Linked DNA regions of Homo sapiens: region 2 is linked to region 1. Evidence: fine-mapped expression QTL. Tissue or cell type: cerebellar hemisphere. Region 1 holds a variant in brackets; the other region holds the start of a gene. All regions are shown on one strand. Distances are between the middles of the regions.

What was found. PIP is the estimated chance that this variant, and not a neighbour inherited with it, causes the effect.
Region 2: LINC01484 starts here. The variant in region 1 is fine-mapped to the expression of LINC01484 in cerebellar hemisphere (GTEx, PIP 0.94).

Annotation. Positions count from the first base shown.
Region 1 is chr5:173,712,118-173,723,788 of GRCh38, forward strand. All of the region lies in intron 1 of LINC01484 (long intergenic non-protein coding RNA 1484), which reads right to left. It overlaps LOC107984118 (a long non-coding RNA gene), which reads right to left and starts at 2,846. Exons shown (of 2, transcript XR_007059059.1): 1 at 2,709-2,846. RefSeq lists enhancers at 8,468-8,968, 8,969-9,469. The variant T/C (reference allele first, on the strand shown) is at 7,767.
Region 2 is chr5:173,738,862-173,754,752 of GRCh38, forward strand. LINC01484 (long intergenic non-protein coding RNA 1484) reads right to left here and starts at 7,348. Exons shown (of 3, transcript NR_108027.1): 1 at 7,159-7,348. RefSeq lists enhancers at 5,121-5,170, 5,301-5,470.

The DNA of each region.
Region 1 (11,671 bases):
GCATCACTCAATTCCTCAAGCTTGTATTAGGCTGTCGTCATGCCAGATCCTGGGCCATGTTCTGAGGACACAGAGATGAGCCAGAGGGTCTCTGCCTGAGGCCTCAGAGTCTGGGGGAGACAGATCTGTAAACTGTGCAACCAGGCAGGCCACAGCAGAGGTGTGAGCAGAGGAGAAACAAAACAATCTAAACGCTTTGGTGGAGACAAGCAGTCAGACAAAGGGTGGGGAGGAGGTGGTGTTTAAACTGATTCCTGAAGGATCAGTGGGAGTAGCCCCCTCCCCAACTCCATCCTGATGAGAGAAGTTTTTCTGATAGAGAAAAAAAATGAGGGCAAGGAGAAAAACCGGGTGAGAGCTTCCTGGCTTTCGAGACTGAGTGCCAGTGCTGGTGGGGAGAAATGAGCAATGAGGCTGGGAAGTTAGGTGAGCCCTGCCTGGTTGGCCAAGGGCCTGGGCTTCCCTCTGAAGGTAATAGGGAGCTCTTGATGGGATTCACGCAGATGGGAGACCTGATCAAGCTTGAGGCAGGGTGGAAGAGGGACAGGAGAGGGCGAGTTGGAAGCAGGGAGGCTGGATGGGAGGCCATGGCAAGTTTGCAAGTTGGCACAGGTCTAAACAGAGGCAGTAGAATAGAAAGTCAAAGAGGAGAGGCCCCAAACATCTTAGGCAGGACATGCTTGTTTATTCATCTCTGAAAGTGAAAGGGAGGCAAGTACAGATTTAGTATGCCACTGTCCAGAGCGAATCGTAAGGGTACAGGGTTGGTGACTGACATTCCTGCTCCAAGAAACTCAAGAAACCTGACCTGTCCCCATCCCCCGCTCCCTGTAAATGTCTGTTTTTGGTTCCTCTTGCCCACCGGATGCAGAAAGGAGGGCCAGCCATGCAGAGCTGCAGCGAGGCAGAGCATAGGGCCAGGTTTCCACGATGTGGAGAGAAGGAGTGGCCCTGCGAGCAGGCGAGGGGGGTAGGGTGGGGAAAGGAAAAGGCATGGAAAACTGCAGACCATAACCCTTGGCAAGATCCAAAAGAAGAGGAATAGTGGAGGATGCAGAGAAAGGGACCACTACAGCCGTGGGCAGGAGTTTCTATTTCCAAATGGATGTGGGGAGGAAGATTTCAGAGGGAACATATTTGCCAGGAGAATTTTGAGAGAAATGACTCAGGGTTCCACAACAATAGCTAATAGGGCAGCAATGGATTGGAGAATGTATATATCTTTATGTTCTAAAACATTTTTTTAAGGAGACACTCTAAGGCCAGAATCGCAAGTGCATGTCTTTGTGGACAGAGCAGGTCACACAAATGAGGAAAGTGGACCACATATTCAAAACACAATAGCTCAAGCATGATAGCCAGCTGCAGGTGACACCAGGCTATAGTGTCCAGGAGACAATAGAGAGGGATAGGGACTGTGGCAAACTGGAGAGCACAGATCCACAAGGGCACAGCAGCAGGTCAGCTCCCACTACTGCCACCCTGTAGGAATACAGGGCTGGGTGGCCATGTTTTCTGATTTTTCAAAAAAATTCAGAAATTTTGATTTTTTCAGGAAACCTCCTGATATGTAAATAGTAGCAGCTAGTTCAGATTTTACCCTGTGTAATAAAACAAAACCATCCAGCCTGTGGGACTGCAGTGGGTCCCTCTGCTCCCCAGCAACCTTGCAATCAACTGAAAACCCACGTCACACAGGTCCTGCTGCCTTCACTCATGTCTGCGGCTTTTCCCCAGGGGGTCTGGAGAGAGAACAGGGCTGGGAGTCATTTGTGGCGTTAACTCCTGGTAGAGTTCCACCTCTAATGTGGGTCCTTGAGCAAACCCTGTAATGTTTCCAGGCCTCCGTTCCTCCACCTATATAATGGCGGCAAGATCTTGGCTCTTCCAGCCAAAAGTCTCTTCTTTTACAATTTTCCCAGATCACTACCACCTTCTGTTGATTGAGGTCCTCCTATCTGCCAGACCCTGTGTTACTCACTCTAAGTCCCTTGCCCAGGATCGCACAGCTATTGATGTTGCAGAGGCTGGATTCCAACTCACACCTGTCTGACTTCAAAGGCCTTTGACTTAGGTACTATATTGACTCCAGTGAAAGCAACTTATTAAATAATTCAGGTAATGCTCCAGGAAAGGGGAGTGTTTTCTATTGCTCTTCATGTACCACCCAAATTCTAAGAGATCCAAACAGTTAATTTTTGCAGCTGATGGGCCAGTATAGATTTTTTAGAGTTCCCTTCGACCTTATAAAAGGCAGAGGAGTAGAGGACTTAGCAAAAGGCCAGAGGAATCAACAACATGAGATGCACCAGGGGTCTCACCCAAGGCTTCAGACAGGCCTGGACTGGCCGACTAGGTGTCAGTCAGCAGAAGAGCAGAGGAAAGAACTCACCCCAGGAGAAAAGTGAGGTGCACGAGCATGTCAAGAACAGGGCCTCTGTTGGAGGGCAGGGGTGGCTGTTCATACAGCTCAGTGGCTGTTCCTTCCTTAAGTGCGGGGACTGGAGCAGAAAGCAGAAGGCCATTTGCATTAAAGTGTGCCACTCTGAGCACCCAGGCCTGTGTCCCCACAGACTGCCGTTCCTTCAGTTATTTCAAATGTCGCCTCTTTCTACTCAGCTGTTGAAGTCAAAAATCTGGCGTCATTCTTGACCTCTTCTTTTACCTCAAGTCTCAAATTCAGTCCATTGCCAAATTCTGTGACTCACCCCAAAATGTCTCACAGCTGTGTCATCTTCCCTCCTCTGCACTGTCCCGGCCGTGGCTGCTCTGCTGGTCTCCTCCTTCACCTTGCCCCTTTCCAGTATCTTTGTGACACAGCAGCTAGAGAAGTTTTTATACAATGCAGATCTGGCCCTGTCTCTCCTCTGCTTAAAAACCCTTTGGTGACTCCCTAGGGCACCATTAATAACGTTGCAAGCTTCCCTCCATGACCTACAAATCCTTCTGCTATCCCTCACACACTGTGCTCCCGCCACCCCTGCCCTCTTTTCAGTTCCTCAAATATGTCAAGTTCTTTCTGGCTTTGGAGTCCTACCAATGTGGATCTGAATCCCGGGTAACCTTGAGTAAGTGCTGTCACCTCTTTGAGCCCCATTCTGCTCATCTCTGAAATGGGTATAATTGTATAACTTATTTCAAGGCATCATCAGTATTGACTTTCTTGCTTTAAACTTACAATCCCATGGAAAATCCCACGGAACACTCTTTTGCTTTAAACCTACAATCCTATGGAAAACGGTGGAGAGAGAAGGATTAATGTCATCCACTGACAATTTCACCTTCATCACCTACTTAACAACGACAAAGTAAAAGACATTCATCCATTTTGGCTTCTGTTTAAATGAGTCATACAATGAAATATCAACCATTTTCACTTAAAAAATTACAGTCTACAACACTTTTTAAAAAATTTTGTGTCAATTACTCCCTTGTTTCTCTGTATACTTTTATGACCTATTTATGGATTTCTAAACAAAGTCTAGCTATTTTGTCTGGTTTTGGACTTTGTGCAAATGGAATCATACTCTCTGTGCTCTGTGACTTGCTTCCTATATTCACGTGAGGATCTGGGATTCACCCAAGCCCGTGCCTGCAGCAGCCACTTATTCATTGCCACTGCTTGCATCGTACTGCCCCGGAGGAAGGTAGCCCAGTTTTCTCACACATTCTACTCTCTGTAGACATTTGGGCTGTTCCTGGTTTTGCTATCTTGAATGATCTTGCTGTGCGCAGGCTGTGTGGGTCTCCTGGCACTGGAATGCTACAGTTCCTGGAGGGGACACACCTAGGAGTGCAGTGGTAGATCCCAGTGTGTGCGCATGTTCAGCTTGACTAGGAATCACCAACTGTTGCCAAAGGGCTCGCTCCACAAGGATTCTCCCACCAGCAGTGTCTGTTCTACCACATCCAACTGGGAAGAAAGGTGGAATGAGACGAATACGGAAAGATTACTTTTCATATATGTGTGTGGATAAGTGCATAAGTCTATGTAATTATCATATGTTTTATGCATTGTTATGAGTGTACGTGACTTCGTTAATTTCTGCAGAGGTTTAAACCATGTTTGCTCAAACCTCTGGGGTACCCCACTGTGGCTTTCATTCGCACGAATGACCAAGGTCTTGCTCAGCACCTTCAGTTCCTGCCTGGAGCCCACCAGGACCTCTGCTGAACCTCTGCTCAGACCCTCCAGGATATAGCCTGGGCTGACCGCAGTCTTGAACAAGTCCAGGAATGATGAAACCTGTTTTTCTAAGACAAATCCCCTAGAATGACATTCAAAGTCCTTCCTATGCTGAAATAACACCAGCTCCTGCACCGAAATAACACCAGCTCCTGCACCAAAATAACACAAGCTCCTGCACGGACCTCCTGGTTGCTCAGCGTTTCAGGCACGTTCTGCCTCTGCACATTCACCCTCAGAGGCCCTCTGGAGGGTCACCCTTCCCTGGATTTTCCTTCCCCAGGCTCCTCCATCCCTCAGTCTGTTCAGGTCTGTGCCCAAGATCTTCTCTGACCACCCTGTCCAGAAGACAGGCCACCACTCCTGGCTGTACCTCACCCTGCTCTGTTTTTCTTGTAAACATGACCTCCCAATGCCTTATACATGGATGTGTTCCTCTGTTCTCTGTGTTTCCACCAGAAGGTGAGTGCTTTGGGGTAGGGATGCATCTTTTCACCTGTTGGGTTAACTGTGCTCAGAGCTGTGCCCACCACATAGCAGATTCTCAAGATAGAATTGCTGAACCTATTTACGAGTGAAGGAGTCCACACCATGCTTTAAAACCTCGCTGTGAGAGATGGGTTCAGGAATGAGTTCTTTCCTTTTCATTTAAAAACAGTCCTTGGCCAGGCGCGGTTGCTCACACCTGTGATCCTAGCACTTTGGGAGGCTGAGGCTGGTGGATCACCTGAGATCAGGAGTTCGAGACCAGCCTGGCCAATATGGTGAAACTCTGTCTCTATGAAAAATACAGAAAATAAGCCGGATGTGGTGGTGTGTGCCTGTAATCCCAGCTACTCAGGAGGCTGAGGCATGAGAATCTCTTGAACCCGGGAGGCGGAGGTTGCAGTGAGCCTAGATTGCACCACTGCACTCTAGCCTGGGTGACAGCAAGACTCTCTTTCAAAGAAAAAAAAATAACAACTCCTTATTAAATTCCTCTGCAGAAATTAGTGAAGTAGCTTGCACTCATAACAATGCATAAAACATATGATAATCACATAGGTCTATGCATTTATACACACACATATATGAAAAGTAATCTCTCCATATTCATCTCATTCTACCTTTCTTTCCAGCAACTAATATTAGTTGTCCTCATATTCAGACACATACAAAAAATAGGGCTTCTTAGTTGATTTTTACCAAAAAAGTGGGATCCTACAGTATTCTGTATCTTGTTTTTCTCATTTAACAATTATGTGCTGGACATTAATCCAGATAACTGCATATGTAGAAAACTTTTTTTAACAGGTGCAAAATATTCTGTTGTGTGGGTGACCCACAATTTATTCAATTATTCCCCAGCTGACAGACAAGCAAAGGTGGCTTTTAGATTTTTGCCACTATGAACAGTACTGCAGTAACACCTTGTACTTACAAATCGTATAAATGATTGTTGTTCTATAGGACAGATTCCCACGTAAGGGATCCCTTTGTCAAAAGATACATGCATTTTGTATTTTAATAGATGAGGCTAGGTTATTTCAACATGTCACGTATTCTGCCCTTTTGCTGTCCTGAGCTTTCTTTGCTCCTGATTTCCCCAGCCCCCTTCCCCCGCAGCCCCACCCAAGATTGCCCAGAAGTGGGGTCCATCCTAACTTCCCAGGAGGCCCAGTTTCCAGGTGCAGAATTGCGCCTGGCCAGACTACCCACCCATGGGAAGCCATTTCAGTTCCATTCCCACAGTAACGTGCGCGGGTGCCTCAACTCTCTTCCCTCCAGCTGCTCACAAGGCCAGGCCTGGCCCTGCAAGGTGGCTTCAGCAGCAAAGGTGGCGAAAGCGGGAGGGAGGAGGAAAGAGGCAGGAAATGACTACGGGAGCCACCCAGAGCTTATCCTCATTCCAGCTTCCGGTTCCCTTTTTGTTCTGAGCATCTCATAGCCAGTGTATTAGCAATGATGATGCCAACAGCAATAATAAAAGTCAACATGCATAGCAGTGACCCTCAGCGGGGCAGCTCTTGTGCCACGCCCCCCTCCCCAGGGGACACTTGGCAATGTCTGGAGACACTTTTGATTGTCACAACTCGGAAGGGGGTGCTAATGACATCTAGCAGGTAATGGCCAGGGAAGCTGCTAATTTCCCACAACGAAAAATTATCCAGCTCAAAATGTCCATAGTGCCGTGTTTCTCACAAATGCCTGGTTTATAGGGTGCTTCCGGCACGACGGGAGCTGTGCTAAGTGGTCAGCACATGCAGGACTAATTTAACCTTCACACTCTTCTTTGAGCTAGGTGTTATTATTACACCCACTTTACAGGTGAGGATACTGAGACTCGGAGAGGTGAAGTGACTTGCTCACGGTCCACAGCTGTGGAGGGCAGAGGCGGCACCTGACCTCAGGTCTGCTTGACTTCACTACACCGAATGGTCTTTGTAGGCCAGCTGGCTCTGTGCTGTAGCAGCAGACAGGGCATCTGATACAAACCTCATGACAAAGAGTTGGTGGGTGGGAACGGCCTGGATGTGATCTTGGTCGTGCCTACCTACCTCTGACACAGTAGGGAGGTCTCTCTGTGACTCCTCAGCTTCTGAGCTTCTTGTGAGGTGGGGCAGAGGGGAGCTGACATAGCAGGTGAGGCATCCTCTGTGGCTGGGAAGCTGGCAGCCGAGGAAACGCGCGGTGCAGCCGTTCCTATTGTCTGATGTGACGTTCCCAAGCCGAAGCTGGGCTGTTCTTTATGACACCTGGGAGTGTACATTTGTGTTCTCTGCCTGTGCATGCTCGTGTGTGTGAGTTTGCCTGTGTGCACTTACCCATATGTGCCATGGTGGGTCTATAGATATATGCGTAAGTGTGCTCTGTGTCTTTGTGTGTAGGTTTGCCTTTGTTCATGTGGTGTCTCGTTCTCTATTTGCCTATGTGTTTGACTATACAGGCAAATTTGTCTGCATGCATATCTCTATCTGATTATATTAGAGCTGGGTGTCCAGGTGTGTGTGTGTGTGTGTAGGTGATGGGGAGCTGTGGCTGTTGTATCTATGTGTGTATGAAGTGAGTCTGGGTGTGTGTGTGTGTGCACATATGAAGGTGTAATAGTGTGCTTTTATGTACATATATTTTGGACGGACTGTACATGTGTGTCTATATATGTATTTGTGTGTGAATAGTGTGTACTTAAATACCTGTGACTGTGTAAACTGTGTGGCTTTGTGTACATGTATATAGAGGTGGCTGGGTGCAGTGATTGCTCTGTGTGTGTGTGTGTGTGTGTGTGTGTGTGTGTGTGATAGAGAGAGAGAGAGAGAGAGAGAGAGAGACAGAGAGAGAGACTCCAGGCTCTTACCAACACAGAAGCTGGAAAAACACTGCTCTCCATGTGTTCTTTCAGCCTCCAAGAATGTCAGCCTCTCCTTAGGTCAGAAAAGATGAGCACAGGGCGAGGAGCTTGACCCAGGCCCTCACTCCCCACCCTCACCGCCCCAGCCTGCCCCCACAGTGCCAGCTGTCAGGGACAGAGGGCCTCAGGCCTCACCCCCCTGCCAGCCAGTCACTAAGGCTAAACATTTACTGAGGCCTGAGGCCATGTTTG[T/C]TTAAACCTCCGGGGTCACTGCACACATGCGATCTGTTTTGGATGGCTTCTGTTCTGCAGGCTGAGGGGAGCAGGTGCCGGCTTGGCAAGGTACCCGGGGTTGCAGCTTCCCTCCGTGAGATGCGCTGCTGAAATCAAGGTTTGCTTCATCTCACAAGAAGTTTAACCTTGGCAATGCGTTCGCTGACCTACTCTTTCAGAGTAATGTGTCCTAAACTCTAGTGTCTTTGTCAACCACTGTGTATCTTCTGTAACTCTCCTCTGTAACTCTCTTCTGCAACTCTCCTTACGCTTTTCTTTAAATTGATCTGCTTCTAGAAACGTAAGTACCTATTTTAGCTTTATTCAAAGCAATTTTATCTTGTGTGATCAAGGGTTAGATATGCTAATTATAAGTTTATATATATTTTTATATCCTTAAAACATATGAAAATAAAAAGCATTGAGCCCTCTGTTCCCTCACATCGCCTTGCTGGCCCTGTGTCGGGAATGAAAATGCCTCCGAGGCTGCCTCTTGCCTTCTGTTTTAAAGGTAGCAATCTATTTCAGGAGATCTTATTTTCTTACAACTTGCCCAGGAAGACACCTTTTGCATAAAAACAGGCAGGTCTGCTGTACCCGGGAGAGAGCTTTCCAAATCCCCAGATGGAGAATGTGTGTTTCCTGGATCTGGCAGGAGGCTGGGGGAGCCTCAGGGTGCAGTGCTGGAGGCTGCACAGGAGTTTCTCCAGACCTCTGTGCCTCCCTTCCTCCTTGGTCAGGATCCTCCCCTGGGGACCTGGCTCTGTAGTGTCACTGCCTTGGTAATCCCGAGCGAAGACTCAGGCACAGAGCTTCCTTCCTTTGTGGGGCGGGGGGAGAATAAGAGGGGAGGGGAGAGAAAGGAAGAAGAGAGCAGAACAGAGGGGAGGGGAGGGGAGGGGAGGCAGATGCCCAGACAGATGGGCCTGGCCATGGGCTCTGCAGGCCTAATGAATTTCCTTCCTCCACCCTCAGGCAGGTCAGTAAATGAGACCAGCGACAGCATCTGGGATGACTCCAGGATGAGGCTAATAAATCAGGCCTAGAATGAATCCTGCTTCCCTGGAGATGGAGGAGGTAGGCCAGGCAGCAGGGAAGCTGGAAGGGCCCAGAGAAGCTCCAGCAGCAGCCAGCCCTTCGATGGTACTGGAAGGAGCTCCCTTCCGACAACAGTCGGTGGCTTCCAGAGGCACTGACTGTGCAGGGTTGAGTCCCAGAGTGGATAGGTGGGTGGGGTGAGTTTTCCCGATGGCCTGGCTTGCTGACCTCTGGGCCTCGGCCAGGGACACCCTCCCCAACTGTCGCTTAATTTATTCCTACAAATCTGCTAGTCTCAGTTCAGGCATCACCTCCTCCTTGGGGAAAGAAGCCTTCCTGGACCCTTGGGGGCCATACCCATGCACCCCTAATGTTTCCCGAACTTCTGCCATCAGCCCACTCACCACATCAGGCTGTGTTTGCACCTCCCCTGGAATGCAAGCTTATGGAGACAGAGATGAGCTGCAGCCCTAGTGGCCAGTGATGTGCCTGGCATCTAGTAGGTGATATTGATATTCATTGATATTGATACTCATTGATATTATTAATAAGTTGAATGAAAGACAGGAGAGAGAAGAGAAGGTAGCAAGCATTGATAATTCTCTGGGGAAGCAAACCAAACTTGTCCCTGGACAGAGGGGGCTGGAAGAAGTCTATGCCATTCTGGCAACCCAGGGCCCTGGGGACACTCAGTTGCTCAAGGGTGGCCCCACCCCTCCCGAGGATGGGACCTCAGGCCAGGTATTCACCTTCCTGAGGCTCAGGAAGGCTCCTTGCCAAAAGGAACCTTTGGGAAAGCCTGGGTTGTAGGAATGAAATGAGGTAAGCTATTTGGAAATGCTTTGGCAAGCATCAAGTCCTTTACTCCCGTGAAGCGTGAAATCACACCATCCCCCGGCTGGATGAAACATGAAAGAATATAGCGTCGAACTGAATTTTGCCGATGAGCAACCGAGTCCAGATAAGGGTAGTGAACTTCCCTGTTCTCATACGCTGGTGAGGTAGACCATGGCCCTGATAGCCCAGGTTCTGGAGCTAACCTGCCTGCGTCAGAACCTGGTGGTGACTTGGGAGCTGTGTGCCTGTGGGTATGTCATTTACCCTCTCTGAGCCTCTGCTCTCTGTAAGACTAGGCTCTGAACTGCACCTACCTCAGGGTGCTGTACAGAGTATGAAACAAGATATTCCTAAAACCACTTGTTTCTTGATTGCCTGCTATGAACCAGGCATTGTAGTATTGGAAATTAAGCAGGGAACATATCAGAGAAAAAAAAAAGCCCTGCTTTTAGGAAGCAGTATATTCTAGAGGGAAGGAATGAACAATGGAAACAACCTTTTTAAGGTAACAGCATCGGTGTTTTAGGGCTGATAAGTGCTGGGAGGGAAAGGCAAGCTGAGGGCGAGGGGACATTCATGTGATTCTGTGTGGGTAACGTGGGGGGTTTGCAAGCTCGTGTTGGGATGCTGGGGAAGTCCTCCCCAAGAAGGTCTTTTGACTAAAGCCCCTGAGCACAGGGCTGGCCAGGAGGGAGCACTCAGCAAAAGGTACTCTCAGAGTAACTAAGAAACAGAACCACCTCTGTCCACCACGGAAGTACCTTTCAGTTCCCGCCAGGGTATCCTCCGCTACCCAGCCCACTGCCCATTGGCTAACTTCCTCCTGCCCTCCTGACTGCACAGTCTGGGCTACCAGTCCTTCCCAAGGAAAGTCAACTTCTGTCCCACATCAGAATCATGTGCAGGTGTGTGTGTGTATGTGTGCACACACGCACACGAGCACATGTGCGTGGGCATGCGTGAGTGCGTGGCTGTGACACTTGCATTTATGGATAATCCTGTATCCATGTGCTCAATGAAGGAGAGTATGGTGCATATGAGTGGAAGTATGAGGTCTAAATTCAAGGGTATGAATATAATTGTTGAACATATTAATTTGTGTCTATAAAGAGGAGTGTGCCTGTGAGGGGGTGGGGTTTGCCTGCATGCGTGTGCATGTGCACAGGAGGCTGTGTGTGCTGGTGCATGCGTGTGCCAGGCATCTTGGAGAGAGGTGTGAGCAGCCTGGCTGGGAGGGGCTTCTCTGCGGGCGGATTTCAGATAACAGGAGGATTCTGGGCTCAGCCAGGAATTCTGGGTTTCGCCATGCTAGGCCCAGCTGGGGGAGGCTTGGACTAGGAAGGGGTTGCGGGTAGAGCCTTCAGAGGACATTGTGGGGCCAAAGTGAGGCTGGCATCTAGGTGGTCCACATTTCCATGGAGAAATACCCTAGTACAGCAGGCTGTGGCACCAAAGAGTGTGTCCACAGGGACAAAGAAAATTTACTATGTTTGCAATTAATAATAGCACCTACGGGCCAGGCGTGGTGGCTCACACCTGTAATCCTAGCACTTTGGGAAGCCAAGGCAGGCAGGAGATCGAGACCATCCTGGCTAACACGGTGAAACCTTGTCTCTACTAAAAATACAAAAAATCAGCCAGGTGTGGTGGCGGGCGCCTGTAGTCCCAGCTACTTGGGAGGCTGAGGCAGGAGAATAGTGTGAACCCGGGAGGCGGAGCTTGCAGTGAGCCGAGATGGCGCCACTGCACTCTAGCCTGGGCAAGAGAGAGAGACTCTGTCTCAAATAATAATAATAATAATAATAATAATAATCATCATCATCATCATCATCATAGCACCTACTATTACTGGGCACCTTCTAGTATCTTCTCTCTTTTAATGCTCACAAGTTTATAGAAAGAAGCCATTATAATCCTTCTTGTTTTCAGATAAGGAAACTGAGTCAAAGAGAAGGTAAATGATTTGTCTAGCATCACACACCATAGGTAACAGGGCTGGGACTGTTGCC
Region 2 (15,891 bases), 29 kb after region 1:
GGGAGTGCTGCCCTCAGAAAGGAATCCTTTTTGTGTCCGGAGAAAAAGTCAGGTCATACTTGGAGAGTTTTAATTTGTTTAAAAGGGCTATGACTGGCCGGGCATGCTGGCTCACGCCTGTAATCCCAGCACTTTGGGAGGCCGAGGTGGGCGGATCACGAGGTCAAGAGATCGAGACCATCCTGGCCAACCTGGTGAAATTCCGTCTCTACTAAAACTACAAAACACAAACACACACACACACACATTAGCTGCATGCGCCTGTAGTCCCAGCTACTTGGGAGGCTGAGGCAGGAGAATCACTTGAACCCAGGAGGCGGAGGTTCAGTGAGCCGAGATTGCGCCACTGCACTCCATCTTGGTGACAGAGCAAGACTCTGTCTCAAAAAAAAAAAATGCTACAACCACCTCCCAGACAATCTTAAAAATGAAAACAAACAGAAACAAAAGCAAAAAGTCTCTGATTGGCATAAACAACAAAGAAGTGGTAAGCTGGGGACTGGCCGAGTCTGGTGTCCCCTCTCCTTCAGTTCCACCCTGCTGGGGTGCCGCCAGCACTGACCCCGACCCGAATCCCTCACCCCACAAGGCAGCAGTGGTTGTGGCATTGCAGCTACACATCTACACACCGTCTCTTCCAGGCTTTCCTAGAAGTCTCCAGTCAGCCTCCCTTGCATCTCCGTTGCCTAAATTGGGTCTCGTGCCCATTCCTAAGTCAGCCCTTGTGGTTCTTATTGGCAAGGACTGGGTTAACATATTTCTCCTTTCAACAAATATTTATTAAGTACCTGCTATAGGCAGCATAGCTATGAACAAAATAGAAGAAAGTTCTAAAAATTGACATATTAGAACTAGCAGGAGGATACAGACAAAAAACAAATGAGTAAAATATGCAATACTGTTAGATGTGATCAGTGCTAGGGAGAAAAATACAGCAGGGAAGGGAGAAGGCGAGTGCACGTTGGGGAAGTAGCCATGTTAACTAGAGTGGTCTAAGCAGAGACCGAGGGAGGTGAGGGAGTCAGTCATGAGGGCATCGAGGGGAAGGGCATTCCAGGCAGTGGCAACAGCAGTGCAAAGGCCCTGAGGCAGAAGTATGCTTGGTATGTTTCACAAACAACAAGGAAGCCAGATGACTAAAGCAGAATGAGGGAGGGGGATACTGTAGGAGAGGGGTCAGGGAGGTAAGTGGGGGCAGGAGCTATGGCCCTTGAGGCCGGGTCAGGGAGTAAGTGGGGGCAGGAGCTATGGCCCTTGAGGTCTGTGGTGAGGATTCTGGCTTCTACTTTGTTTATTGTAGTTGTTTTGTTTTTTGAGACGGAGTTTTGCTCTTGTCGCCCCGGCTGGAGTGCAGTAGCACCGTCTCAGCTCACTGCAACCTCCACCTCCCAGGTTCAAGTGATTCTCGTGCCTCAGCATCCTGAGTAGCTGGGATTACAGGTGCCTGCTACCTGCCCGGCTAATTTTTGTATTTTTAGTAGAGACAGGGTTTCACCATGTTGGCCAGGCTGGTCTCAAACTCCTGACCTCAGGTGACCTGTCCGTCTTGGCCCCCCAAAGTGCTGGGATTACAGGTGTGAACCACCACACCCGGCCTCTACTTCGACTTAGATAGGAGGCCCATGGAGGATTTTGAATGGAGAAATGTCCCAATCTCATTTAGGCTTTAAAACAGAGGTGTTTAATCTTGGCTGCGCAGTGGAATCACCTGGAGAGCTTTTAGAAAATACAGATGCCCGGGGCCCACCCACAGAGGTTCTGATGTCATCAGTCAGGGATAGGGCCTGGGAATCAGGATTTTTAAAAGACACAGGAGAGTCTATGTGCAGATGAGGTTGAGAGGCGTGGGTCTGTGTGCCGAGGACTCCCAAATCCTTATCTCTGACTCTCGACTCGTGACTCTCCCTTGATGTCCATATTTTGATGTCGGCTTCCAACTTAGGGTCTCCATTTGGATGTCAAATCATCATCATAATCGTCTCCAAATTAACTGAACCTCAATCTGATTTCTGACCCCTCCCCAAGCCTGCTCTTCCTGTGGTGTCCTCTGTCCAGTTCCTCAGGCCAAAACCTTAGTGTTATCCTCGGTTCCTCTGTTGCTTTAACACCTGACATCTGATTCTTTAGAAGACCATGCTCACCCTACCTTCAAACATACCCAGAAAGCACGGCTGCTCACACATCCACTGCCGCTACCCAAACCGAGGTCCTCCTGACCTCCAGGTCTTCTGCCCCTGCCTCCAGCGGCACTTCCCAAGCCTGGCTTCTGTGGATTCACGGGGGAGCTTTCAAAACTGTGGATGCTTGAGTCCTCAGAGTCTGATAGAACCGGTGGGGTGCAGTGGGGCACTGAGAATTTTACAAGCTCACCAAGTGGTTCCATCGTACAGCCAGAGTTGAGAACCTCTGATAAGGATGGGATTTAAATCGAAGGATCTGGCAGTGACGGCCTGGGGAGAGAATACAGCTACAGAAGCAAAGAGGTCAGAGACTGAGCACTGCCAGACTCTGCGACCTGCAGAGTCAGGGAATGAGGAGGAACCAGGAAGAGGCAACAAGGAGACAGACCCAATCACTGCTGCAGGGGTGGGAAGGACCCTTGACTAACCGAAGGCACTGCTTGAGCTAAGGTGGAAAAATCAGCTTCCCCAGGGCCCAGGGCAGCATGGAGGAAGAGAGAATGGATACCTGGATCAGCTTCTCCTGGGGAAAGGGAAGGAACAGGAGGGATGTTGGGTGGCCAAAAAATATATACTAAGCCAATAAACATGATGATGGTAATGAAAATAAAAATAATGCTGAGAGAGAGGGAGGGAGAGGGAGACAGGGAGACAGGGGGACAGGGGGACAGGGGGACAGGGGGACAGGGGGATAGGGGGACAGGGGGAGAGGGGGAGAGGGGGAGGAGGAGGAGGAAGGGGAGGAGGAGGAGGAGGGGGAGGGAGAAGGGGAGAGGGAGAGGGAGAGGGAGATCTTCCTCTTCTTATAAAGCCACAACTTGTACTGCATTAAAGCCCCACCCTTATGACCTTATTTAACCTCAGTGACCTCCTAAAAGCCCTAACTTTTGACCACACCTAACTGCAAGGGAGCCTAGAAGATGCAATTCAGCTGCGTGCTCAGGCAGACAAGGAGAGCATGGCCATTGCTGAAAGCAGTGCAAGAAGCAGGTGGGAGGGTACCCCAGATAGATGGATCATTGTGTGCCAAAGTCTGGAGGAATACTAACAAGGTGAACCGGGGCACCGCCACATGCTCAGCTGTCTGGCCCTGGGTGTAGGAGTGGGGAATGGTGGGAGGGAAGTGACTATGTTGGGCAACAAGATTCCCTGGCCCTTAATTAGCCAGGTGTGGTGCCCCGTGCCTGTGGTCCCAACTACTCAGGAAGCTGAGGTGGGAGGATGGCTTGAGCCCAGGAGGTCAAGGATGCAGTGAGCTGTGATTGCACCACTCCACTGCAACAGAGCTTGCTCCATTGGGCAACAGAGCAAGACCATGTCTCAAAAAAAATAAAAAAAATTAAAAAAAGGAAAAATTCCCTGGCTCTTAAAGAGGGTCACGGGCAGAACTCATGCTCAAGACCATCACTCAGGGGTAGCTTGGCTCACAGTTTCTTCCAACTTAGACAATTGAGTATTTCTTTGAACATATGATTTCAAAGGATTCTTTAAAACACTTTAACCATTCATTTATTAGTAGGGAACATACTCATATTGTTCCACATTTGAAAAGTGAAACGAGTCAATCATGACAAACCTCCCTTCCACCCTGTCTCTCAGGCACACACTCCTCCTCCTCCCTCAAGGCAGCCAATGCTTTCAGTTTCATGCGTCATCTTGCAGTGATGTTTTATGCAAATATAAATTTTATATATAATACATTCTTCCTTTTGTCCAGTTTTGCACTAATTGTAGCATGCTCAACATAGTATCCTGATCCGTATTTTTCTCTGAGATTTTTTTCATGGTGATATGTAAAGAGCCTTCTTGATGACAACGTAGAACTCCACTCTATGATTGTACCACCAGGATAGTCCCCTACTGATGGACAGTTAGGTTATTTCTAATTTATAAATAATCTTGTAATTAAGTTTGCATATATCACTTCATGCAGGGGTAGATCTATTTGCAGGATAAACTCATAGGAATAGAACTTCTGGGTGAAAGGGTTATACTATTCTAGCATAACTGGCTGTGAACCGCTGGGCCACTCCACATGTCCTTCTGTCTGAGTCCCTCCCTAGTCCCACCCAATGATGCAGACCTGGGCGACAGTTCTGAGAGGTGCTGAGCCCAGCCATGTGGCCCCTGGCATGGTTCCATGCCCCTTGGAATATGGCAGTGCCCAGAGTGTTCTCCTCAGATTCTTGGCTGGAGACGTCTCAGGGAGGCCATCCTGTGACCCCCATGCCCGTGGTCCCACATCAAGGATCATTGTTTCACTGCCGCTCTTCAACCACCAGCCCAGCCCCATTCCTACCCCCTCCTCCAGCTCTATGACTTCACCCCTCACTCCCAGAACAGAGGCAAAGCCCAACGAAGGCCAAGGCAGCACTGTGATAGCCAGAACAATGGCCCCTCCAAAGCCATCCATGTCCCAATCCACACAATCTGTGACTATGTTGCCTTACATAGCAAAAGAGACTTTAAGATATGAAGTCAAGGATCTCATGATGGAGAGATTATTCTGCATTATTTGGCTGAGCCCAGGGTAATCGCTAGGGTCCTTAAAAAATGGAGACGGGAGGCCGAAAGTGAGTCAGAGAGAGTCTGGAAGATGTTATGCTGCTGGCTTTGGAGTGGAGGGAAGGGTCGTGAACCAGGGTATATAGGTGGCTTCTAGAAACTGGGAAAAACAAAGCTATGGCTTCTCCCCTAAAGCCTCCAGGAGGAATGCAATCCTGCTGACACACTGGTTTTAGCCCAGTGAGACCTATTTTGGACTTCTGACCTTCAGAACTGGAAGGTAATAAATTTGTGTTGTTTTCAGCCACTAAGCTTATAGTAATCTTTTACAGCAGTAACAGGAGACTAATCCAACAGTCCCCGAACTGCCCCGCGTGGGAGTCCAGTGCTGCCTCTCTCCTGCCTCCCCTCTCTCAGAAGGCCTGGCTTCAAATCCTTGTTCTCCTTACCCACCGGGTGCTTTTGGGTACATGCAGCATTTCTTTGGGCCTCAGTTCTCTCATCTGCAAAACGCAGCACATGATCAAACTGTCACAAGGTTGCCGGGAGGTTAAATGAGATGATGCTTGTGAAGTCTCTTAGCAACTTTGCCTGCCATGAAATCGGTGCTTGATATTTTTAGATGTTGAGCATAATTCTGAAACTTTCAGTTGTCCTCCCAGAACCTACTCCTGCTCTGGCCCTGGCTAGGGCCCTAACTTCCCCTAAGGAGACAGCCCCTTCCTGCAGTGCTTACACCCAGCAGAGACCCTCAGGGAGGCAACTCTCTCCTTTCAACCGGCCCCAAGGAACCAGGGCCCTGAGGTGCTGTTCCCAGCAAAGAGGAAACTCAACCCAGGTTCAAATCCTTTTTTTTTTTTTTTCTGCCACTTCCCAGCTGGGTGGCATTGGGGGAGTTACTCCACCACTCCGAGCCTTGGTTTCCCCCTTTGTAGAATACCCACAGTGAGCCCTAGCCCAGGATGCTGGCCCAGGAGTGTGCTCATGGCTGGGCACGTAGCAGGTACTGGATAAACAGCTTCAGTGCACTGCCCTCTCAGCCAGGACCAGACCCCAGACTTGGTGGACCCTGGGGCTCATACAGTGTGTAGCGCCTCTTTAAGAAGGAGCCTCTGAACTTACAAACATACAATAGGGCTTCTGATGGGGCCTATGCCGGGGAGGCATCCTGAGGCCTGAATTCCATTCGCTTCTGCTTTCTGCTCTCAATCCCTCCTCCTCCGTAATGACCGGGCCAAACGTGTTTCAGAAACGTCCCTCCCAACTTGCCTGAATAAGCCCCAGGAGCCTGAGATTTTTACGAAATTGTCAGAGGCAGTGACCATCTTAGTCTCCCAGCAGGATCCAAGCTCCCTTGGTAAGTGAGCAAGACTTTTGATGGAACAAAAGCAAAATCTCTATCTGATGAGATTAGCTCCTTGGAAAAGAGCACACAGTTCATCTCTACCTTGCTTGGACAGTAGAGCTGCCAGATTAAAACAGCAACAACAACAGCTATATACATATGGATTCAATTTAATTTGAATTCCAGATAATGAATAATTCTTTAGTATAAGTATATACCAAATATTGCATGAGACATTTAACTGGATGTCCTGAATTTTATCTGGCAGCCCTGTCTGTCAGAGACACAGCAACATGGCTATTCAAATTCAGGATGTGTTTTGCAGAAGTGTTCCTGCTTTGAGAAGCAGCTGGGGGCCCTTGAACTTCAGCAGAATAACCAGTGGCAGAGGAAGGGATATGGGAAGCTGCCCCCGGGCAGGTTGGTGACGCTTTTAACAGCTGCACCCAGAGCCAGGTGGTCAGGGCCTGAACTGTAGCCTAAAATGAGCCTTGCAGCCACCCCCAGAGCAGGTGTTGGCACACCCATTTCTGCAGATGTGAAAGCCAGAGCGCAGCAAGAAAGGAACACCTTGTGAGCACCTACTATATGCTGGCATCTTACACGCATTAGCTCATAGCTAAGAGTGGGCAGATTTTGTAGCTGTTGCTATTAATGTAATGCAAGCATCAGAGAAGCATTATATGAAAAATAAGTCTTCTTCCCCACATTTGAGAGCGCTCAACCTCTTAAACCTCTCAGCGATTCCTCAGCCTCAGCACTATTGACATCTTGGGCCAAACTTTTTTCTTTTTTTTGTCGTGGGCTGACCTGTGCACTGTAGAATGTTTAGAAGCATTCCTGGCCTCTAGCCACTCAATGCCAGTGGCACCCCCCTCCCCGCCCCGTGACAACCAAGAAAATGACTCCAGACATTGCCAAATGTCCCGTAGGAGGCAAAAATCGCCCCTGCAAAACCACTGCTCTAGAATAATCACTGTTAATCATTTTGTGAAAGGGAAATAAATCTTGGGACCCCAAAATCACTAGGCCAAAGGGAAAAGTCAAGCTGGAAACCATGTTGGGCAAACCCACCACCCATTTCCTTCCTGAAGAAGATAGCTACAAAGATTTTTAAAAGCTACTTACCTTCCTCACAATTTTCCCACAAGGAAATTCCTTGTGGGCCTCAAGATCTTCACCCTAAATTAGTTCTGTTGAATTTCACCCTGGCAATGTAAACCAACAGCTGATCTTCACAGATGTGGGACAGAAAGTCATCCCTCTGCTCACCTGAAGCAAATGCCTATCCGATTGCTTCCTCTGCCCTATTGTTTATGTAAAAATGCTGATTCACTGAGCCAGACTAAGGCATAAGTGACTATTCTTCTACGCCCCCGCCCCCCACCACCGCATGTAAATTGTGTATTCAGTGAAAGGCTGATTAAAGACTCAAAAGAATGCGACTATTTGTCTCTTGTCTACCTATGACCTGGAAACCACCCCCTCCACCTTTCTGGACCAAACCAATGTACATCTTACACATATTGATTGATGTTTCATGTCTTCCTAAAACATATAAAAGCAAGCTGTATCTCAACTACCTTGGGGCCAAACAATTTTTGGCCTCAGGACCTCCTGAGGCTATGTCATGGGTGCGTCCTTAACCTTGGCAAAGTAAACTTTCTAAACTGATTAAGACTGTCTCAGATACTTTGGGTTCACACTTCCTTGAGAATATTTTTAGAATACTTCTAAGCACATGTGTATGCCTTTAAAAAACAAAACCAAACAACGACAACAAAAAGACAAGGCCAGGCTCAGTGGCTCACCCCTGTAATCCCAGCACTGTGGGATTACAGGATCTCTTTGAGCCCAGGAGTTTGAGACCCGCCTCAGCAACATGGTGAAACCCTATCTCTACTAAAAATACAAAAAACTAGTAAAGTGTGGTGGTAGACACCTGTAGTCCCAGCTGCTTGGGAGGATGACTTGAGCCTGGGAGGAGGAGGTTGCAGTGAACTGTGACTGAGCTACTGCACTCCAGCCTGGGTGACAGAGTGAGAGCTTGTCTCAAAAAAAAAGTTTTAAAGAGACAGGTTAATATATACACCTCTTTTATCACTTGCCTTTTTACTTATCAGTATACCTTGGACATCTTTCTGTACATCCCACTCATGAATCTGCATTTCTCCTTTGACAACTACGTGGCATTTCTTTGTGGGTATTGCTGCCATTGATGTAACCAGTTCCCTCACTACTGAGGCAGTTGAGTTGTTTCCAGTGTTTTGCTGTTACAAACAGTATTCCAGTCAGCATTCTCACACATGTATCTTGATATATCCATAGGATAAACCCCTAAAAGTGGAATCACTGGGCCATAGGTGTGTTCAGTTTTAATTTGATGTGCCACATTATATCCAAAATAGTTTGTACAATTTACTCCATTGCCGCTAACATCTTGATGAAAAGTACCAAACATTTAGTGAGCATTGACTGTATTTCATACACCATGTTAAGGGATTTACATGTGCTATCTTATTTAATTCTCACTATAATTCTACTGGTAGGAACTAATATTATTTCCATTTTACAAATGAAAGAACTTTGGCTTAGAGTGATTAAGAGTATTTTCTAGGCGGGGTGCGGTGGCTAATGCCTGTAATCCCAGCACTTTGGGAGGCCGAGGCAGGCGGATCACCAGGTCAGGAGATTGAGACCATCCTGGTCAACATGGTGAAACCTTGTCTCTACTAAAAATACAAAAAATTAGCCCAGCGTGGTGGCGGGCGCCTGTAGTCCCAGCTTCTTGGGAGGCTGAGGCAGGAGAATGGTGTGAACCCAGGAGGCAGAGCTTGTAGTGAGCCGAGATCGTGCCGCTGTGCTCCAGCCTGGGCGAGAGAGTGAGAGTCCATCTCAAAAAAAAAAAAAAAAAAAAAAGACTTTTCTAAGCTTGTCAGTGACAGTACCGGGATCCCAACTCAGAGCTCTCTCAGTCTAAAACCTGTTCTCTTCACCAATACATTTACTCTTCATAACAATTGTGTGAGCTGGGCCCCATTATTCCCATTTCCAATGGGATTACTGAGGCTCCAAGTAGTTAAAGTGACTTGCTCAGGGACATAGAACCCAATCACAAATCTGAGCCTGACTCCAGAATCTGTGTTCTTCTCTTGAGACTCCATGCCAACTCCTCCAGGAAGCTCTCTGGGATTACTCCAGCCATCCTTATCATCTAACCCCCAAGAGCAGCTCCTTGGGAGCCCTGGGAATCTGCAGCAGGCATTTCAACTCAGAGTGCATAGGTGTGTGGGTGTGTGGGATCTCACAGATGTTGAAGTCAGACAGACTAGATTAGAAACCCCTATGCCATCTACCTTCTGAAGTGAACTAGGGCAAGAGACCCTCCCTCTTGGGGTCTCAGTTATTTCATCATTATGATGCTCGTTATTACTGTTGCTATTAGTAACATGATAACAGTGATTACCCCTTATGGAGAGCCTTCTCTGTACCGCCTTTTACAGTGGGTAGTGTTTTAGTTTAGGTCCCTCAGGAAGCAGACACTGAGACAATGATTTGGGGCAAGGTTTTTATTTGGAAGGTGACCCCAGGCATCTTGGTGAGAGACTAGGGAAGTGACACAGGGAACAGAGTAAAACCATGGGATGGTGTGTGATGGACAGGTAATTGCCAAGGCTAGCTGGGCTCCAGCCTGCTGGGGACCTCTGAGAAGTCATGTGGCTCACGCCATGGAATACCCTACCCAGGCAATCCTCAGTGGTTGGGGGTCACTCTCGCTTTGTTGACTACAAGGCATTCCCACAGCCTCAGGTGGGGGCTGGGGTACTGTCTGCAGGTGGCCAGTAGCACAGCCTCCCTGCAGGCAATTTACAGGAGCCTCAGAATGAATTAATCACCACTCACATTGTGTTTACCACTGACCTTGTGTTTTAATTATCATTGACCTAATTGCCATTGACCTTGTGTTTTTTTCCTGTGAGTTCTGTCACTCTTTGGAGGGTCTATGCCTTGTACCTCACTTGGGTTTTTTGCAGTACCATGTGGGGCATGGCATAAACCTCCATAAATTGAGGCTGATGATTTGAATCCTTCAGTCATCAGCAAATATTTACTGTGTACCTACTATGTACTACGTGCTGTTTAAGAAATTAGTAGACTTCGGCCGGGCACGGTGGCTCACGCCTGTAATCCCAGCACTTTGGGAGGCTGAGGCGGGCGGATCACCAGGTCAGGAGATCGAGACCATCCTGGCTAACACGGTGAAACCCTGTCTCTACTAAAAATACAAAAATTAGCTGGGCATGATGGCGGGCGCCTGTAGTCCCAGCTACTCGGGAGGCTGAGGCAGGAGAATGGCATGAACCCGGGAGGTGGAGCTTGCAGTGAGCAGAGATTGTGCCACTGCACTCCAGCCTGGGTGACAGAGCAAGACTCCATCTCAAAAAAAAAAAAAAGAAGAAATTAGTAGACTTCATTTTTTTTTTTAGCAGTTTGAGGTTTATAGAAAAATGAGTGGAAAATACAGAGTTCTCATCTACTTCCAAAGCCCCCCAATCCCGTTACCACCTGTTATTAACATCTTGCATGGGTGTGCTATATTTGTTACAACTGATGAGCCAATACTGATACATTTTTATTAACTAAAGCCTCTAGTTTACATTACGGTTCCCTTTTTGTGTTGTACATTCTATGGCTTTGCACAAAGGCATCGTGATATGCATGATGCCACTATTCCCTGTGATCCACCTATTCAGCCCTCCCCGCTTCCCGCCCCTTCCCTCCAACCCATGGCTCCGGTGACTTTTTCAATGCTGGGAGTACAGCTAGGACAAAATAAAATTTCTGTCTTCAGGGAGCTAACATTTTAGTAGGGAGAGGGATAATATGTAAGCCAGCAAATAACACACCCAAGTCCAGGCGATGATAGAGGCTGTGAAGAGAATTTGTGTGGCTAGGGGAGGGGAGCTCTTGTTTAGACAGGATGGTCAGTGAAGGCCTCTTTGAGGAGATGACACTTGAGCAGAGCCTTCTCTGGCCGGAGACCCAAGGAGGCCAGGCTGTGGCTCCGAGGACTGTGCTGCTGAGAGGCTGTGAAAGATTCCATAGGCCACAGTGGGTGGACCCAGAAAGGCACGTTGACCCCTCACAGTAAAGGGAGGTGTCATGGCTGAACTGGGTCCCCCTGGCCTCAAATTCATATGTTGATGTCCTACCCCTAGTACCTCAAAATGTGACCACATTTACAGAGAGCATTTTTTTTTTTTTTAGACAAAGTCTCGCTCTGTCACTCAGTCTGGAGTGCAGTGGCACCATCTCAGCTCACTGCAACCTCTGCCTTCCAGGTTCAAGTGATTCTCATGCTCAGCCTCCTGAGTAGCTGGGATTACAGGTGGGCACCACCACACCCAGCTATTTTTTTTTTTTTTTTGTAATTTTTAGTAGAAATGGGGTTTCACCATGTTGGCCAGGCTTGTCTTGAACTCCTGGCCTCAAGTAATCCACCCACCTTGGTGTCCCAAAGTGCTGGGATTACAGGCACGAGCCACGGCACCCAGGCAGAAAGAAAGAGGGTAAGAAGTTAAATGGAGCCATTAGGGTGTGCCCTCCTCTGGTATGAATGGTGTCCTTACAAGAAGAGGAAATTAGGACACAGACACACACAGAGGGAAGACCAAGTGAATGAAGATGGCATCGGCACACCAAGGAGAGAGGCCTCAAGAGAAACCAACCCTGCTGACATCTTGATCTTGGGTTTCTAGTCTCCGGAACTAGGAGGCAATAGATGTCTGTGGTTTAAGCATCCCAGACTGTGGTATTTTGTCGTGGCAGCTGGAGCAAGCTAGCACAGGAGGCACGAAACCTGCCCTTCCATTCCCCCAGCCCTCCCATCCCATGCAGAGGTGTTAGAGAGCATGATCTACTGTCACTGAAACAGTCTAGGTCCTAGAAGCTGCCTTGAGGTGGCCTTCCTTTCCATCTCGGGGGAGCAGAGCTAGCTGTTCTACCTGCCTTGCTCTATGACTCTCTGCTGGTTGTGGAGGCCACTCACGGAGGACCCACTGGGCATGTCCAGAACAGCATCACAGACATCTGCATCCTGACAGGCAGAGGCCAAGACCCCATTCTTCCTTCCACTTAGTAGTTGTGTGACCTTGAGTGGGTTACACCTTCCAAGCCTCAGTTTCTATATCTGTGCAATAAGGGGAAGTGAAGGTTCCTCCCTCCTGGGGGGGACCGGGGAACCAAATGAGTGACCGTGTGAGAAACACTCAGCCCAGCCCAGAACACAGATGAGGTTAGCAACCCTTTCATCCCATGTAGCATTTGTCTTTACAATGAGTCTGAGGGGGAGACGTTATCCCCATTTTATGCAAGAAACCTGACCTAAGGGCACCTTGCGGTGACCAGCCAGTCAACCCACAGCCTTGAAGAAGGGACCACCACCCCCTGGCTGGTTCTGCCCCCGATCCTCTGGTGGAGCAGGTGGTGCAGTTGGCTGTGGCACTGACATCACTGCGGTCCAGGCTGTGGGCCCTGGTCTTGTAAATAAGTCTCAAAAATTTGACTCCACTCTCCGTCCCTCCCTAGCCCCTTGAGTCAGCAGGACTGCCCTGAAACAGCTCAAGAACAGACTTTCCATGACGTTTCCAGCTTTTAATTTTCCTAGTTCCCTTCTAAATCACCTCTCTGGACCTCAGTTTCCTCATTTGAAAAAATGGGTAGAAGGGGTCAGTGCTTTCTCAGGCCTCCCCGCCACAGCAGAACCATCTAGGAATTCTGCCAGAAATGTCACTGGGGGAAGTCATGCCATGGTGACAGTCACACTTAATGACAGCTCTTATTGACTGCACATTTCCTATATCAGGTACTTTCTATACATCCTCTCATTTTATGTCTGACAAGGAGCCTATGAGGTGGTTGATACTGTCCCTATTTTACAGATGAGAAGACAGAGACCCAGAGATGCTCAGTGGTATTTTCAAGTCCTCATGGCCAGTGCATGGTAGAGCTGAGACTTGAAATCAAGTCTGTCTGGGTTTGAAGTCTGTGTCTCCTGCATCCTGACCCTGACCCCCCGTGTGTCTCGTGGCTTACAGTTTTAGGGTTTTGTTTTTAGGCAAAACACTGTTTTGTCTGAATTACAATTCAGTTCAGGTTTATTTTAAAATTCATAACAACACAGGTGACTTCCAAATTGTAGCAGCAAGGTTGGTGCCTAGAGCGCAAGTTTTACAGCCCAGGTTTTCCTTTGCTCTTCCTTGGGAGGGGAAACATCCTGTGCCATGAGCATTTGCTTTAATTTTTACATACACACACAGACACAGACACAGATACACACACACCCAGGGATAGATTCATTTCTCCAGCTCTCCTTTGAAATGGAGGGAGTAAGATCTGGCACAGTGGCTCACGCCTGTAATTCCAACACTTTGGGAAGCCAAGGCGAGTGGATCACTTGAGCTCAGGAGTTCAAGACCAGCCTGGGCAACATGGTGAAACCCCGTCTCCACAAAAAATACAAAAATTAGCCAAGCATTGTGGCACATACCTGTAGTCCCTGCTACTCGGGAAGCAGAGATGGGAGGATCACTTGAGCCCAGAAGGCAGAGGCTGAAGTGAGCTGTGATTGCGCCCCTGCACTCCAGCCTGGGAGACAGACTGAGACCCTGTCTTAAAAAAAAAAAAATGAAATGGAGGGAGCAAAGAACAGAGATATTGTTGAGGCTTGGGGCTGAAATTAAAGTTCAAACTAAAATCCTGAAGAGATTGACTATGCTGATTTCCTTTGGACGTTAAAAAGCCTGCCAGAAGGATGCTAATTGACAAGGCTTCCCAGGGCTTGGAGGAGTTTCCCAGAATGCACTGTGAGTGAGGCAGACAAGGCTGCACGGGCCCAGTTCTCTTTGTTCTGCATGTGTGTTGCTGCGGCATGGCATGATGGAGACAGATAAATGCGAAAACATTTTGTACACTGGATAGTGTACAACAAGGAGGAGGAGGAGAATGTGGCTCACATGGCCTGGTTTCAGGCTCAGCTTTGCCCCCAGCTAACTGTGTGACCTGGAGGAAGTTGCTTATCTGGGCTGCAGTCTGTCCCTAAGAAATAGTTGGACACTACAAGATCTCATTTTTCCATTTGAGTCTAAAAAAGATTACCTTGGCCAATGTGGCACAAAATTCTGTTTCCTAGAAACATACTCTTAGCAGCAGCAATGATAACAAAATATAAAAGTAGCTAATATTTATGAAGCACGTAGTATGAGCTAAGCACTGAGCAAAATAATTTTTGCATGGCCCATCTCACTTATATCTCCTGATAAAGGCACAAGCTGGATACTTATATTATCCCTACACTAAGGATGAGAAAACTGAAACTCAGAGAGGCTAAAGGATTGCTGAAGTCCCTGAGCTAGAAAGTGGCAGATCTAGGATTTGGAAATTTGGAAAACCAAATTTTCCTGCGTCCATGGTCTCCCCCTTAAGCAAAGGTTCAGGTCACAGTCATAAGCCTGGATGCAGCAGTGGAGATGGTTAGGGCTGATAGGCCCTCACTTCAGGGTCACCAACAAGCCAGAGTCTGATCTCCTCTAACGGAGTGTCCCTGGCTTCGGCAGGCAGTGCGGGAGCGTAACCGGATCTGCTTAGAGAGGCCCCAGCTTGCGCCATTCACTGGGCCAGAAACCTGAGCTGCTCCTGAGAGGGCTGGAAAACAGCCTGGGGCTTGGAGATTGGCTCACACTATCCCAGCTATTCCAACGCAGACTAAATGGCTTCTGGCCCTTGTTAATGGCGCCATCTCAGATCAGTGCCAGGGGAACCACTGGTCATTTGGGGGCACTGGAGGGAGCAGGGTAGAGGCGTGGGGTGATGGTGGGTGATTAGCAGCTCCCCTCTTCCTCCTCGCCCCTTGGTCCCTCTAGTTGACCCACCACCTTCCCCCAGTTGACGCAGCACAAATTTCTGGTGGGAGGGATACTCAGGTTTGGGAGTCCGTTTCATTCCTGCATGTTCACTATTTATAAGCCCAAGTCACAGCCTGCCTGGAAATTCCAGGCCACACTCCTGCAACCCAACCTGATCAAATATTCATGGAAGCCGATGAGCTGTCATCACCATGAATCCCACGATCTGCATTTATTGCTTTGACACTACTTTATAGGAATTACTTCTCCTCCTCTGCCCTGTGCCACATTTTCACCACCCTTCCCCAGTAAATCCAGCTCTGAGTAATTTATAAATCTGTAGCTTATCAAAATTGTGCTCAGGCCTCAACTTGGGAGAAGGAAACTAAATGGAAATTAATTTATATATTGGGCATTGATTACAGTGTAGACTCTTTTAAATGTTTGTTTGCAGAAGTGCATGGTAAGGTAAAAAGAATCTTTCAATCAGAAAGACCAGGTCTTGAGTCCCAAAGCTGCCTTTTGCAATGTGATAATAATAACTTAATTGAATCTGAGTTCATCGTGTCTCAGACAAGGCACTCACATGACAAGTCTATGAGCCAAAATATGTTATTATTATCCCTCCTATTTTTCAGATGAGGAAACTGAGGCACAGAGAGGTTACATAAATTGCAAAAGGCAAATCGCAAGGTCACATAAATTGCAAAAGGTAAATTGCTAAGCCCAATTTCCACATATTGGGAAAATAAGGGATAATAATTCCTGATTTACCAGGTACTTGGGAAGGTTAGATTCTGTAAAGTGGAGGGCTTAGCACATAGAATGCCTCCCATCCCCTCCCCTTCTCTCCCCTTCCCTTCCCTTCCCTTCCCTCCTGCCTTCTTTCTTGCTTTCCAATATTGATCAAGGGCTGCCATTATGTCAGGTCTTGTGCTTGGTCCTGGAGAGATGGCGT